Linked DNA regions of Homo sapiens. The protein of the gene in region 4 purifies or fractionates together with the protein of the main gene of each other region. This does not show direct contact. Each region holds a gene or a part of one and is shown on either strand. Other genes may lie near its edges.

The links. The genes of interacting proteins can lie anywhere in the genome.
Region 1: the proteins of VMP1 (region 4) and ALPL purify together in Homo sapiens (affinity purification with mass spectrometry; one large-scale study listed by BioGRID and IntAct). This does not show direct contact.
Region 2: the proteins of VMP1 (region 4) and CAPZA1 purify together in Homo sapiens (affinity purification with mass spectrometry; one large-scale study listed by BioGRID and IntAct). This does not show direct contact.
Region 3: the proteins of VMP1 (region 4) and TMOD1 purify together in Homo sapiens (affinity purification with mass spectrometry; one large-scale study listed by BioGRID and IntAct). This does not show direct contact.

What each region holds. Positions count from the first base shown.
Region 1 is NC_000001.11:21,564,723-21,568,422, reverse strand, and holds part of ALPL (alkaline phosphatase, tissue-nonspecific isozyme isoform 1 preproprotein), read right to left. Parts: intron 320-3,700; coding exon 176-319; intron 1-175. UniProt on the Homo sapiens protein: Alkaline phosphatase that metabolizes various phosphate compounds and plays a key role in skeletal mineralization and adaptive thermogenesis.
Region 2 is NC_000001.11:112,654,132-112,657,831, reverse strand, and holds part of CAPZA1 (F-actin-capping protein subunit alpha-1), read right to left. Parts: intron 3,368-3,700; coding exon 3,161-3,367; intron 1-3,160. UniProt on the Homo sapiens protein: F-actin-capping proteins bind in a Ca(2+)-independent manner to the fast growing ends of actin filaments (barbed end) thereby blocking the exchange of subunits at these ends.
Region 3 is NC_000009.12:97,560,466-97,564,165, reverse strand, and holds part of TMOD1 (tropomodulin-1), read right to left. Parts: intron 1,435-3,700; coding exon 1,345-1,434; intron 129-1,344; coding exon 1-128. UniProt on the Homo sapiens protein: Blocks the elongation and depolymerization of the actin filaments at the pointed end. The Tmod/TM complex contributes to the formation of the short actin protofilament, which in turn defines the geometry of the membrane skeleton.
Region 4 is NC_000017.11:59,709,628-59,714,773, reverse strand, and holds part of VMP1 (vacuole membrane protein 1), read right to left. Parts: intron 1-5,146. UniProt on the Homo sapiens protein: Phospholipid scramblase involved in lipid homeostasis and membrane dynamics processes. Has phospholipid scramblase activity toward cholesterol and phosphatidylserine, as well as phosphatidylethanolamine and phosphatidylcholine.

The DNA of each region.
Region 1 (3,700 bases), on a different chromosome or scaffold from region 4:
AATGATTAGTCACTGACTATCTACTGCTTGTATATCTCTTAGGCCATTTGAGCCCATGGAGGAAAGATTTCCGATGCCCTTTCTACAGAGGACAACAGAACTTCAGAGCAGGGGTCACACAGCCTCTCCCCATCACAGGCCACCTCTGCAGCCACATGGCCCCAGCACAGGCTACCTTGTATCTCGGTTTGAAGCTCTTCCAGGTGTCAACGAGGTCCAGGCCGTCCAGCCTCGTGCCCCTGGCTTTCTCGTCACTCTCATACTCCACATCAGTTTTATTCTTGGGGTACATGTATTTCCGGCCACCCCCCATGATCACCTAAAAGAGACAGGAGCCATCACTTCTGCAGGGTTCCAAGATGCCCAGAAGCCCCAGTGACCTCGGCTTGGAACCTGGACTCCTGGAGTCCCTGGAGATGGTGTGGACACTTTCCCAGCCTGGTGAGCCAGGCCTCAGTCATCTCTGGGCCTTACTTGTCCAGCGTGGGGAGATGAAATCACGAGTCTATTGGGACGGTGGTTTGGCGCTTCTAGGGATATTGGAGGAGCTGATAACTTACCTTACTTGGCTTCCCGGAATCCACAGAACTCCCACTCGAATAAGAATCAGACCATTTACAGAGCGTTCCCTGTGTGTCAGGCACTAAGCATTTAAGATACATTCTGACTCAACTTCATACCAAGGCTGCAATAAACCCTGGCCACCTGTTTTCCAACTAAAAAAATGGGCACAGAAATTGGTTTTTTCCCCCGAAGGCCACAGAGCCAGGAAGTGGCAGCATCAGGATTCAAACCCAGGGCTTTTCCGGCTGTGGCACTAGGGCCCTGCTGTATTCGTGCAGCTAAGGGCAGGGACTCCCAGAGCCTCCTCTCCCACGGTGGAAGGCTGAATGCGTGCAGGGAGAGGCTCCAGCCAGGGAGGTCTTTGGGGCAGCCCACAGCTGGGAGCCAGCCCACCGCAGCCTGGGCAAACAGCGGGGCCGGGCCTCACGGCTCTGTAGTCACCACCAGGCTAATTTTACCCACCAGCTGGTGTGTGCGGGCAGACGGACGCGGGACTGTTTGTTTTCCTTGGGAGTCCATGTTTGAAGTTCTGACTATTTTTAAAGTAGGGCCAAGAGCATAACAGCAGCCGCCTGCGGTGACCACCACACTAGTGTTCTCTTGTCACCGCGGGTGCCAGCCCGGGCCACTGCCCCTGGCTGACACCTTGGGAGTGCAGAGCCTGGCTGACACTGGCCCCAGATCCACCATTCCAGGCCTGCATCTCATAGGTCCCTTGCTCTATCCTCCACTCTGTCTCCCACCTTAGATCCTAGGTTTTGTGGAATGCACAGGGGGCCAGGAACACAGGATGGCTGGAGAGGTGGGAAAGGTGCCCCAGGACCAGCCTGGGTCCAGGCCATGGTCATGGCCGTGAGCTTTGAAGTCAGACTTGGGTTTGAACCCTGACTCTATCGACTACTGACCAAGGGCCTGCCACCTAAACTCTGTGAGCCCAGTTTTCCTATCCATAAAATGCGACTGGCCAGGCGCGGTGGCTCATGCCTGTAATCCCAGCACTTTGGGAGGCTGAGGCGGGAGGATCACTTGATGCCAGGAGTTTGAGACCAGCCTGGACAACATGGCAAGACCCTGTCTATACAAATAAAATTTGTTTCGAAACTTAGCCGGGCATGGTGGTACAGGCTTGTGCTCCTAGCTATTCAAGGGACTGAGCCAGGAGGAGCACTTGAGCCCAGGAGGCTGAGACTGAAGTGAGCCATGATCACGCCACTGCACTCCAGCCTGGGCAACAGAGTGAGACCCTGTCTCAAAAATAAAATAAAATAGGCCGGGCGCGATGGCTCACGCCTATAATGCCAGCACTTTGGGAGGCCAAAACGGGCGGATCACCTGAGGTCCAGAGTTTGAGACCAGCCTGGCCAACATGGCGAAACCCCGTCTCTACTAAAAATTTAAAAAAAAAAAATTAGCCGGGCGTGGTGATGTGCGCCTATAATCCCAGCTACTCAGGAGGCTGAGGCAGGACAATCGCTTGAACCCGGGAGGTGAAGGCTGCAGTGAGCCAAGATCGCACCACTACACTCCAGCCTTAGAGACAGAATGAGACTCCGTCTCAAAATAATAATAATAAATAAAATGCAACTAACATCCATCCACAGACCCATCACAGGAGGAAAGGCAGTCACCCAGGGAAGTCCCCAGCACCCAGGGGGTGGCTGCCACTGGAAGGCATTTCTATTGCCAGAAGGAGTGGGGAAACAAGTGGTTCAGAGAGGCAGAGTCCTTGCTCTCAGCTGCAGCCAGGAGCTCAGGGGGCAGGGTGGGCTGGGAGAAGAAGGAGAAGGGGACCCCAGGTCACGGGTCCCTTGCCCCGCCCCCCACAACTGTTCCCACAGAACCTGACCTCTTGGCATCTTCAGAGTGGAAAACGAAGCCCCCAATCTTCCTGCAGGGAGCCTCATCGTTTCCAGCCCGGCAGCGACTTCACACGGGCTCATTAAACTCCCAAATAACAGACTTGCTGTTTGGCTTTGGGGTTTAGGTTTGTGTCTTTCTTTCTTTCTTTCTCTTCTTTCTTTTTTTTTTTTAAGCAACAGTATTTATTTTCAGGGTGGACACCAGGATTTTTGTTTCATGTACAGTCTGGGGACTGGGAGGCTTTTGGGGGGGTGGTGACGGAGAGGCAGGTGGGGCTGGGAGAGAAAGGAAGAGGAGGAAAGAAAGGGATCCTCACACAGGTCCTCCGTCCTCACTCACTCCCTGGCTTGTGCCCCTTGACGTGGCCCCTGCGGCCCCCCCTCCTCATCTCCCACCCCCTCACCTGAAACATCTTCCCTCCCCTCGAATTTCCTTCAAGTTCCTGTCCCCTGCTCAGGCTGTCCCTGACAAACCCCTCTGAGGAGCAGTCCCCATGTAATTATACCCTGTGCCTGTACAACAAATGTTCTCACATCCATGACCTCATCACGGCCTCCCACGGCCCTGGGAGCAAGCAAGTGTGGCTCTCTGTTTCTGCTGCACAGGTGGGGAAACTGAGGCATAGGGAGGGGAAGGAACTCGCCCCAGGCCACATGTCGGGTGAAGGCAAGCCAGGATGAGTGGCTTGGCCTCAGATGTCTGTTCAGTGAAAGGGGCCAACAGCACTGTGTGTCCTGAAAGCGGGTACTTAATCCACCATGCTGGGAAAAGGGCAGACGTGGGTCTCTACTGTGGAGGGGCCAAGTAGCCCCCAGAAATTTGTGGGGGGCAGTGCATGGAGGGCTGAAGGCAGGTGAGTTTGTCTGGTGGTGGAGAGAAAGAGGTGAGGTGTAGCTGGGCAGGGGGGCTTTCTCTGCCCCTCACCGAATCCCCATTCCAGGCTCAAGGGGCAGAAGTCCCCAGATCGCCTCAGCAGTCCCCCACAGTAGGCAATAAAAGCCTGAAAAGGAACGAGCCGGGCATTCTCACTTAAGAACAGAGAGTAAGCGTCACATGGATGACTTCTGTCTCCATGAGTCAGCTCAGTTTGTTGAAGTGTGTTTCAGGGCAAGGACATGTGGCTCCTGCGTAAGTGCCACCACCTTCTGGGCACTCGCTAGGCCTCGGGTCCTGTGCTGAGCTCCACAGGGATTATCTTAATCAGTTCTTGGCATAAGCTTATGAGGCAGGTACAGTTCACAAAGGAGTTGTGAAAGGGAAGCCTCAGAGAGGTTAA
Region 2 (3,700 bases), on a different chromosome or scaffold from region 4:
TTACCTGAGGTCAGGAGTTCAAGACCAGCCCGGCCAACATGGTGAAACCCCATCTCTACTAAAAATACAAAAATTAGCCAGGTGTGGTGGTGGGCACCTGTAATCCCAACTACTAGAGAGGCTGAGGCAGGAAAATCGCTTGAACCTGAGAGGCGGAGGTTGCAGTGAGCTGAGATCATGCCACTGTACGCCAGCCTGGGCAAAAAGAGCAAAACTCCATCTCTAAAAAAAAAAAAGAATTAGGGGTTGCTGACAGCAGCCTAAGTAAAAGATAATTTCTAGAAGTGGTTGATTGGCTTCAGTGTGAAATGCCATTCGGAAGTCATGGACAAGGAAAAGGACACTGGACCAGGTAACTCAGGAACCATTAGTAAACTCAGAGCAGTTTCTGTAGAATGGAGACTAAAGTAAAAAATTAAAGGGTTCAGAAGTAGATAGAGGAAATGGCATTAGCAGGCAAAGAATATGTACTGACGTGGTGGTGATGCAGAGAGAGATGAGAGAAGGGAAAAAGTGGAGAAGAGGGAGAAAGGGCAAGGTGGAAAGGGCAGACAAAGAAGGAGAAATAGGCCGGGCCTGGTGGCTCATGCCTTGTAGTCCCTACACACACACAACACACACAGAGAAAAATTAGATAGGTATGGTGGTGTGCACCTGTGGTCCTAGCTACTTGGGAAGCTGAGGCGAACGGATTACAAGGTCAGGAGTTCAAGACCAGCCTGGCCAACACAGTGAAACCCCGTCTCTACTAAAAATACAAAAATTAGCCAGGTGTGGTGGCAGGCGCCTGTAATTCCAGCTACTCAGGAGGCTGAGGCAGGAGAATCGCTTGAACCCAGGAAGGGGAGGTTGCAGTGAGCCGAGACCACACCATTGCACTCCAGCTTGGAAGACAGAGTGAGACTCTGTCTCAAAAAAAAAAAAAAAAAATTTCTGTCAGTTTCAATCCTTACAAAACATGGGGGATTAGATGCCTGTCAGAGGACAATGAAAAATGTTTGGAACATACTATGTAGAAAATGTGATAGGGAATAAGGAGATGAAATTACGGACTACTAAGCAGGTCAGCTGAAGACATAAGACATAGGATACTTATATACAGCAGACACCATCACAACAATTCCATGACTTTCTGTAGGTCATTTGATAGCTAAGGACACAGTAGGGTTATTTGGTGCTGGAGCTCTCCAAATTAAGAATGGGTAGTGACAAACTTTGAACAGGTAACAAACAATAAATTCAAAGTATATTTAGGATTAAACAGTCAATTTCTAAATGGGAGTCTATCATGTCTCCCCTTTGCAATACTGGCTTCCCAACAGGAATTCTATACTTGTCCAGTCCACCATAATGGGTATTCTCATTAAAAAAAAAAAAAAAAAAAAAAAAAATCAAACATAATGACACCTAGCCTAACATTCATCTAACATTTATGTAGAGCTTACTTTGTGCCAGGCACTGTTCCAGGCATATATTACATATATTACTAATTCATTAAATCTTCACAACAACTCTATGAGATAAAAACAATTATTTCCATTTTACAGTCAAAGAATTGAGGCACAGAGATGTTAAGTAATTTACCTAAGGTCACACAACTAATTAATTGGCAGGGCCAGGAATCAAACCAGTTAGTAAGGCTTCAAAGTAGGTGCTCTTAACTGTATTCTAGACTGCCATGTAATTCATCATCATTGTATATTTAAAATATTCTAGTGAAAATTGCTGATTTTCCCACAACAAAAAAATGATAAATATGTATAGAAATCCATGTTATTAGCTCAATATAGCCATTCCACAATGTATACATATTTCAAAATATCATGTTGTACATATCATATTTTTGTCAATTTAAAAATAAAAAATATTCTAATCAATATTTTTCTTAATATGCCATAATTTTATAAAGGAAAAATAATAAAGCCAAATTTATCTATTTTTACAGTCAAGAGGGAGTAAAAGAAAATTAGGCCAGGTGCAGCAGCTCACGCCTGTAATCCCAGCACTTTGGGAGTCCGAGGCAGCTGGATCACCTGATGTTAGGAGTTCGAGACCAGCCTGGCCAACATGGTGAAGCTCTGTCTCTACTAAAAATATAAAAATTAGCCAGGTGTGGTGGTGGGCACCCGTAATCCCAGCTACTCAGGAAGCTGAGGCAGGAGAATTGCTTGAACCCAGGAGATGGAGGTGACATTGAGCTGACACGGTGCCCCTGCATTCTAGCCTGGGTGACAGAGTAAGACTTAGTCTCAAAAAACAAAAGAACAACAACAACAACAGCAAAAACAACAACAAAAAGAAAATCACTCCTGATTAAAAAAAAATTGTTTGGTTTTTTTTGTTTTTTGTTTTTTTGAGACAGTGTCTCACTCTGTTGCCCAGGCTGGAATGCAGTGGTGTGGTCTCAGCTCACTGCAACCTCCACCTCCCTGGTTCAAGTGATTCTTGTGCCTCAGCCTCCTGAGTAGCTGAAACTACAGGTGTGCACCACCACATCCAGCTACTTTTTGTATTTTTTAAGTAAAGGTTTCACCATGTTGGCCAGGCTGGTCTCGAACTCCTGGCCTCAAGTGATCTGCCCACCTTGGCCTCCCAAAGTGCTGGGATTACAGGCATGAGCCACCATGTCCAGCCAATTGTTTAGTTCTAATAGTTTTGATTACTGAATATAAACATCTAAACTATGTAGAAGTAGTTTGTGTAAAAATGCCTATATCAAAAAGCCATAAATATGAGCAAAAGCTCTCTCAACAATCTTAGTATACCATTTTTTTCTCCATGTCCAAACCAAAGACCTTTTAGATCTGGGTAAAAATACAAACAAAAAAAAATTAATTTAAAAGGTTAATTTAAAAAAAAGAAAGAAAAAAAGAAAAACCAAAGACCTTTTTCTGATGGGTGTAAGGCATTTTTCATAAGTCAAATGTGAAAACAGAATACACTGATACCTAAATTTTTTGTGCATTGGGATTTTAAAAAGAAATTTTCCATATAAAAATTTCATTTATACCCCTTTCCAAAATGATTTAGGGAATAAAATGCAGAGGAGAAGAGAGCATGGCTAAGAAGAAAGTAGGGATGTTTGGTAGGCCAAAGCCTCCAAAGGATAAGGTAAATATAAGAAAACACTCTCTGATAACGAAGCAGTCAGATACTTAACAGTACAGAAGCCGTTGGAATAATGGTCTTTCACATAGGCTCTTAAAGCACTGTCACAGGATTCTCTCCAAGACTTCAGACCTCCATCTGCTTCTTCTGGCTGGGGGTCACTTGCTTCTTTCCGTAAGTGGTCAAATTTAAAGGAAATTTTGTTTCTTGGATCTAAAAATCTGCTATTACCCAGGTCACCGTGCTCTGTAATTAAGACCTTCCAAAGAATCATTAAACATATGAGTAACTGTAAAAAAGACAATTCTTACTGCCTTTTATGAAACACATCAATAAAAATTCTGAGGCAGTTAACTTTTCATTTAGTCAGATTTCTTTCATATTAATTTTTCAACCAAGTCCCGTATTATTAAGAATATTGTATTTATGAATAAGTCAACTTTAAACTACAAAATATCCCCCATACTAATAATATTCATTTCTTGGTTTCTAATATATACTTATACATAACTATATATGTACTTTATACATAGCTGTAATAACTTTTATGTACACTTTTGTATTTTTTTCACATATTTTTCCAGAGTCATTA
Region 3 (3,700 bases), on a different chromosome or scaffold from region 4:
GATATTATTGAGGTTAACTTCTTCAAGTTTTGGGTCGTTGTTCTTTATCCGTTCCAGCGTTTCCTCTACGTCTGTTGAATTTGGTTCTTCGTCGGGCACAGGCTTGTATTGTGTGGGTTTAATCACGCCTAGAGTGACCGATGAAAGGGAGGTGGCTCACAGAAACAAGGGGCTCACTTTCTGCCAACACAAAGATACTGTGGAAGGGAGCATGTGCAGGGTTGGGGCACGTGAGGGCTGCACATCACAGGGGCTGGGTGGGGGTAGGGGGCACCACTCAGAAGAAGCCCCGCAAGGGAGCCAGGAGGCTGGGGTTCTACTTGGACTCTGCCTTTGACGTCCTGCAAGAACTGGGTGAATTACTTAAACTCTCTGAACCTTGGGTCTACATCTGTAAGGCAGGGCTAGTCATTTTCCCGGGGCTCATGACCTCAGTGGACTCTTGGGAGGCTAAGATGAAGCCCGGATGGGAAAGAAATGCATCAATCTTCCAGAGGGAGGAATAATTATTTTTTTTGGCAGCCTCATTTCTGTTTGGGGCCAAAATGCCAGCTTTGGAACAATGCAGTGGAGTAATTAAGGCAATGCAATATTGGCACAGGAAAGGACAAAAGGGCTCATGAAACAGAGGAGGCACCTAGAAACAGATCCATGTGGATGATAAAGGCAGGCCCCAAACTAGTGGGGAAAGGATAAATCTTGCAAGGAATGGTGTTGGGACCACTGGATATTAATTCGAAAAAATGAAAGTTTGGTCTCATCCCACAGCACACACAAACATGAACTCCAGGTAGATTAAGAAGTTGAATATAAGGCCAGGTGTGGTGGCTCATGCCTGTAATCCCAGCACTTTGGGAGGCTGAGGCAGGAGGATTGCTTGAGTCCAGGAGTTCGAGACCAGTCTGGGCAATGGTGTGACCTCATCTCCATACAAAATAAACAAAATTAGCCAGGCATGCTGGCATACACCTGTAGCCTCAGCTACTCAGGAGGCAGAGGTGGGAGGATCGCTTAAGCCCAGGAGGTCCAGGCTGCAGTGTGTCAAGATTGTGCCAATGCACTCCAGCCTGGCTGACAGAGCAAGACCCTGTCTAAAAAAAGAAAAAGTTGAATATAAAAAGTAAATCTCTAAAACTTTTAGAAGAAAATATAGGAGAACATTTCTATAATACTGGGATAGAGAAGGCCTTTGTAAACAAGACACAAATCCCAGGAGACTCAAAGGAAAGGATGAACAGATTTGGCTATATAACATGTTAAAACTTCTGCAATGAGCCAGAGAACATCAGTGAGTGGAGGAAGCAAGAAGCATGAGGTCCCTCCTGGGGGCGGGCGCATACTCACTGTTGAGCCCCTCCTTGTTCATGATGGAGCTGCTGCTCAGGGCCTGGTAGTACTGCTGGTTACTCATGAGCGTGTGCATGCCCAGGATCGCTGCAGGGACAAGGGAAGGGCTCATGATGTGCCTCTGCAGACAGAAGAGCCTCCTAGGGACCCACACTCCAAACCCCGGGAACTCTGGCTCACAGAAATGGCAAGAAACACTTGCATGAAAACTTCAAAATTTTATTTTACTTTTACTCTCACCTCTATTGATGTGACTCTGAAATCCCCAGCCCCAGCCCAGGCTGCTCTGCCCCTGGCCTCTGATTCCCTGATGTCCTGCTGGCACATCCAGCTCAACGTGGCCAAACCAGAATGGCTCTTTCCAGTGACAGCCTCTTTCTTTGGAAGGCTCTCTTTCCATCTTGTCATCCTGCCTGTCCCTCAGGGTAAAACATCAGGGAATGTGGCACCTTCTCCCCATAAGCCCATTTGACCATCCCAGTGTCTCTGAGATCTGTCCCCCTCCCATCCCATCATCTCCATCCTAATGGAGGCCTGATCATTCTTTGGCTGTATTGTCACAGCTGTGTCATCACGGGTGTCTTGGTCTTGGCCTCTTCCTTCCCTCTACCTCCCAGCATGCAGCACAAAGCAGCTGGAAAGCTCTTTCTGGAAATGCCAACCTGATCTTATTGCTCCCGTGCTCAGCCATTCTTTCATCCATTCATTTGTTCAACATGTAATGAGGCCCACCCCAGCACTGTGTGCTAGGCTCTGGTGGGGACAGTGGAGAATAAGAAAGACTGGGTCTCCGCTCATGGAGCTGAAAGTGTGCTGGGGGAGAGAGGAGCCAAGCAAGTTCCCACACAATGAAAAACCAGCACAGGGTATGCTGAGTGTGGTAGAGGAAAAAGTTCAGTCCTAAGACAGCATAAAAGAGGAACTTGGGATGCAAAGGAGGAGTAAGTGTTGGTCAAGTTAAGAGAAGGGCTATAGAACATTACAGGCAGAGGAATGCAGGTGGGAAAGCCTCGAGGTTCAGAGAGTGGCAGGCCAGTGAGGGAGGAAGGTCAGGTTGGCATTTCAGGAAAGACCTTTCCAGCTGCTCTGTGCTGCATGTTGGGAGGTGGAGAGTAGGAAGAGGCCAAGGCCAGGACACCAGTGATGACACAGCTGTGACAATCACTGCTGGGGGAAACAGGATAGAAGCTGGATGTGTGGCGGTAATAATCAGACGCATGGCAACACCACCCCTCTCACTGAGCACATGCTCTGGGCCAGGGAAGACACTTTGTATCCATCATTCCCAATTTGGCTGCACACTGGAATCACCTGGGGATCTGTTGAAATTCCTGATGCCCAGTCCCACCCTAGACCAATTAACCCAAAATATCTGGGGGTGGAGCTCAGGCACCTGCATTTTTAAAGCTCCCTGGATGGTTTCAATGAGCAGCCAAGGTTGAGAACCATTGCCTGACACTCCCCTCCTTGATCTGCCCAATAACCCTCTGGAGTAGATTTTATTCACCTAGGCAAGGTCAGATTCTACAGGGTCTTCTAGGCTGAGTAAGGAGTTCGGGTGTCTTTTCCTAGGAACAGCCTGGGAAGCCATTAGAGGCTTGAGCAGGAAGTGAGATGGTCTGACCTGAGTTCTGATTATTGTGTTGAGAACTCACTACAGAGGGGAGAGATGGATGTGGCTGCAGAGCTGTGAGGCTGTTGCAGCTGTCCAGATGGGAGGACAGTGGCTTGTACAGCCAAATCCAAACCCAGAGCCTGGCTTCACAGGCCTTCCCTGGGCTGGCCCCACCTCACCAGTGTTGTTGCACTCCCCCTCCCAACAGCTTCTCTGCTCCAGCTACACAAACAGCCCCTGCTCATAGCTGCTCCTGCTTTTGCTAGTACTCTCCCTTCTGCTGGTGATTCTCTGCACCCACTTGACTTGGAATTTTAGATAAACAACAAATTTTTTTTTTTGAGATGGAGTCTCGCTCTGTTGCCCAGGCTGGAGTGCAGTGGCGAGATCTCGGCTCACAGTAAACTCCACCTCCCAGATTTAAGGAATTCTCTGCCTCAGCCTCCCGAGTAGCTGGGATTACAGGAGTGTCATCCTGTAATTTTTGTATTTTTTATATATACAATATATAAATACTTTATATATATATATATACAATACAAAAAATATTGTATTTTTTGTCGTCCGGCTAATTTTTGTATTTTTAGTAAAGACAGGGTTTCACCAACTTGGCCAGGTTGGTCTTGAACTCCTGACTTCTTGATCCACCACCTTGACCTCCCAAAGTGCTGGGATTGCAGGCGTGAGCCACCTCGCCCGGCCAACACCAGATTTTTTTTTAGCTAAGTACGCCCCATT
Region 4 (5,146 bases):
TGCTTGAGCCTAGGAGGTCAAGGTTGCAGAGAGCTGTGATCGTGCCACTGCAATCTAACAATCTAGCCTGGGTGACAGAGATCCTGGCTCAAAGCCCTCTCCCTGCACCGCCCCCACCCCCCACCAAAAACAAAAACAAAAACGCAAGAACAACTTTCATGTGCTTTAAAATAATTATATATATACATTTGAAAAAGGTGAAAAACCTTGCTCCCCACTCTCCCTGCTAGATGTAACCACTTTTATTAGTTTTGTGTATCTGACCTTTCTTCTTTCAAACACTCCTATTATTGTTTGAGTATGTGTCCCCTCCAAAACTCATGTTAAAATTTAACCCCTAATGTGGCAGTAGAGTGAGACAAGGCCTTTAAGAGGTGATTGGGTCACGGAGGCTCTGCCCTTATGAATGAATTAATCCATTCATAAATTAATGGGTTAATGGATTAATGGGTTATCATGGGGGTAGGACTGGTTGCTTTATAAGCAGAGAAAAAGAGAACTGAGCTTGCACACTCAGCTCCCCCTCCATGTGATACTCTCGGCACTCTGCAGAGTCCCTCCAGCAAGAAGGCCCTTACCCAATGTGGCCACTCGATCTTGAACTTTTCAGCTTCCACGGCTATAAAAATTAAATTCCTTTTCTTTATAAATTACCCAGTTTCGGGTATTCTGGTATAAGCAACAGAAAACGGACTAAGAAACCTTCTTTTTTTTTTTTTTTTTTTTTCCTTTTAAGACGGAGTCTCGCTCAGTTGCGCAGGTTGGAGTGCAGTGGCACGATCTTGGCTCACTGCAACCTCTGCCTCCCGGGTTCAAGCGATTCTAATGCCTCAGCCTCCCTAGCAGTGGGGATTACAGGTGCCCACCACCACGCCCAGCTAATTTTTGTATTTTTAGTAGAGATGGGGTCTCACCATGTTGGCCAGGCTGATCTTGAACTCTTGACCTCAAGTGATCTGCGCACCTTGGCCTCTCAGTGTTGGGATTACAGGTGTGAACCATTGTGCCCAGCCCTAAGATACCTTCTTAGTCTCCGTTTTGTTAAAAAAAAAAGTCTCTCTTTTTTTTAACAAAAAAAAAAAAAAAAAAAGAGAGATGGGGTTTTGCCATGTTGTCCAGGCTGGTCTCGAACTCCTGGACTCAAGCGATCCACCCACCTCAGCCTCCCAAAGTTCTGGGATTACAGGAGTGAGCCACTGCATCCAGCCCAGATCTTTCTTTTACCTGCCCTTGGCCCTCTCCTCTCCCTATCTCCCCAGGTGACTCATCTGGTCCATGGTTGAAAATACTATCCCGTATTTGTATTTCTGGTTTTGACCTCTAGATTTATATATGTAAGTGCGTGACTTGGATGATTTATTATTATTATTATTATTATACTTTAAGTTCTAGGGTACATGTGCACAATGTGCAGGTTTGTTACATATGTATACATGTGCCATGTTGGTGTGCTGCACCTATTAACTCGTCATTTACATTAGGTATATCTCCTAATGCTATCCCTCCCTCCTTCCCCCAACCCACAACAGGCCCCGGTGTGTGATGTCCCCCCTCCTGTGTCCATAGATGATTCTTTAAGTGTCTCAAAATTAACATGTCCTTTTCTCCCTACACCTACCCACCTTCTTGTAACAAACAAACCTGGTCTTCTCCAAACCTCCCTTCTCCCAGTACCTGGCACAACCACCCACCCAGTCACTAAATCCAGAAGCTTAGTCATCCCTGACACTTCCCTTTTTCTTACCACTCATCTAACCCAGGACCAAGTCCTATACCAAATATATTTGGTATCCACACACAACTGTCCATCTTCTTTGCTACCCTTCTAGTCCAGACCATCTTCATCTTCTTCTTGGACTATGCAGTGGACTCTCAACTTCTCTCTCCATTTCTGTTCTTGCCCGCTTCAATTCATCCTTCACACATGAACAACAATGAACTTCTTATAAATCCTATTACTCCTCTACTTAAAATTGTAGAATGATTTCCTACTGCACTCAAAATCAAATTCAAACTCATTCCCTTGGCCTGCAAAATTCTGCATGACCTGGATCCTGTATATATTTCCTATATCATCTCATGTCAATGTATTCCAAGTCTATTATGCTCCAGCCTCAAATAAGCATATATCCACATTGTTAACTCTCTCTTAGACCCTCATGTGCTGCCTTCCTAACAATTCTTATTTCCCATTGTTTTCCCCAGAACCTGGTGTAAGGCCTGGGACACAAAATGTTTGTTCACTGACTGGATAATGAACAGATAAGGCAATAGATGTCACTGGAAAATGATCTTTCCATTCCAAGAAAGTGCTAAAAGACATCATGAAACATCAAAAGTTTCAATTGCCAAATTCTGTGTTATGGCTTACACAGATAATGTAGTCTGTTAATACCAAAAAGTTAACAGAATGGCCCAAAAGAATGCCTCATTTGGTTAAGAATCTCACATATGTTGTAAAATATAGACAAAGTGAAGTGTATACTCAGATATTTATTTACTGGAACTTCATTAATAATGAGCAAACAATAATTAAGTAAGCAGCAACATAAAGCTATGCTTTTAAAAGAGGGCTGGGAAAGAGTTCTTGGCAATAGCTTAGGGGGCCACATGATGATAATGATCACAATCATGGTTAACTATATGCTACAGACACTGTTCTAAATGCTTTATTTAAACCTATTCATTCAATCCTAACAAGAAGGGTATTGACTTCATTGTCCAGGAGGAAACTGAGATAGCAAGAAGTAAAAAGTAACTAATCCAAGAGTTGCATAGTAATAGAGCTAGAATTTGAAAAAAAGCAGTCTAGCTTTATAGCCCTGGCTTTTAACACTACCTGCCTAGTCCTTCCAGGTAATCTATAAAGAACAAAGTTATCATTAAAAAACTCAAGGACAAGAGAAAATACTCCCATGAACTACTGAAAAGATTAAGTAGTTCAAGAATACAAACAAACTCTTGAGCAATTATAGGTATATTAGCTGTGATATAATTACTCAATAGATTGCCCTTGCTTAATTTAAATATGCCTTAAACTTTAAGTATCACCTTTTATCTGACACAGAAAATTATCTCCTGTTCAAATTTCCTTGATGCTGCAAATCAAGGAGCATATTTTAAAATAAGCTTTATATAAGGGCCTACATAATACCTAACTTCAGTTCAGCAAACTCCATCCAAAGCTGCTTTCCCATATAAAATAAGGAATTTCTTGAGGCAATATGCTCTTAGCAATTTACTATTCCTCAAAATATTTGCAAGGCTTTGTGAAAGCAGAGTAACAATTTACAAAACCACGACAAAGTTATCACTTCAATTTGTCCTGTTTATTAGGATTCTCTAATCTAGAGTTCATTTCCACACCAAAATGGGAGACACAGCAAGGGCACTTGGGCAAAAACAGGAATGACAGTAGCACCTAGAACTATCATCTCCGAGAAAGACTAAAGAGACTAAAAAGTTTGTTAAATCAATGGAACCAAAAAAAAAGAGTACCCAACAATGCAAAGAATTAACTCTTCTACAATGGCTATTTACCCAGAATAAAATAACTAGAGAAATGGCTCTATATATAATAGATAATTAACATAACAAAATATTAAAATTACAAACAGCTTGGGGAGGTTTTTTTTTTTGTAAGAGCAAATAATACAGTTCTCTCCTACTGCTTTTCTTTTATTTTCTTCTCTTTTTTTTTTGAGATGGAGTCTCGCTCTGTTGTCCAGGCTGGAGTGCAGTGGCGCGATCTCGGCTCACTGCAACCTCCGCCTCCCGGGTTCAAACGATTCTCATGCCTCAGCCTCCTGAGTAGCTGGGATTACAGGCGTCTGCCACCACACCCAGCTAATTTTTTTGTATTTTTTGTAGACACCGGGTTTCACCATGTTAGACAGGCTAGTCTCAAACTCCTGATCTCAGGTGATCTTCCCGCCTCGGCCTCCCAAAGTGCTGGGATTACAGGCGTGAGCCACGGCGCCTGGCCAGTTCTCTCCTACTCTTTAGCAACAACATTCACAGTAGACACGTGTTAAGGCTCCTCCGTCATTTCCACTTGCCAGAAAGATAACTCAACACATGACAGTCATGAAGCATGAACTCAGACAAACTATTCTGAAGAATATAACTGATTTTCTTTCCTTAATCTATTACACTTCAAATCTAGCCAAGCACAGTTTTTGTTATGCTACAATTTATAAGACTAAACTAGCTAAAGAGGGAAAAAAAGTTTGTAAATAAGGCTTATGTGCGTATGTGTGTATTTACGTGTGTATGTGGATAGATCCCTTTAATACCTAAGAGTAATTATTTTCATGTGAACTTGGAAATATTACCAAACCATAATAAGATGCCTGGATACAACCTTGTTAGAACAGAAAGAACACTTGAGACCTTACAGTTCAGGTTCTAGCACTACCTAAGCCAGATGACCTCAAGCAAGCCAATTACTAATTACTGATTGTTTCTGAGCCTTAATTTTCTCCTCTGTTAAATGGGAATCTACTTATACATTCACAGAGATTCCTTCTAATTCTAAATATTGGTTTCAGTGAAATAATAATGTTTCTTTTTTTTTTGAGACGGAGTCTGGCTCTGTCTCCCAGGCTGGAGTGCAGTGGCGCAATCTCGGCTCACTGCAAGCTCCGCCTCCTGGGTTCGCGCCATTCTCCTGCCTCAGCCTCCGGAGTAGCTGGGATTACAGGCGCCTGCCACCACGCCCGGCTAATTTTTTGTATTTTTAGTAGAGACAGGGTTTCACTGTATTAGCCAGGATTGTCTCGATCGCCTGACCTCGTGATCCGCCCAACTCGGCCTCCCAAAGTGCTGGGATTACAAGCGTGAACCACCGCGCCCGGCCCAATAATAAGGTTTCTTATTTAATGTAAGTAAGATAGGACTACTTCTACTCTTTAGTTAACTATACGTAGGCAAAAAACTTCAGCTTTTTCTGCACTTGGAAGTTCTGAAGTGACAATACATGACGACCAAAAAGGATCAGATTTAAACTCCCGAATGCAAAACTATACTCATTTTCCAGGAACCTATTTATTAACCATGGTGACTAATTCAATGGATCACGGTATCAAACTATTCTTTGCTAACTTTCAAAGGTGGGGCAAAGATCATCTCAGAAAAGTATGTGATA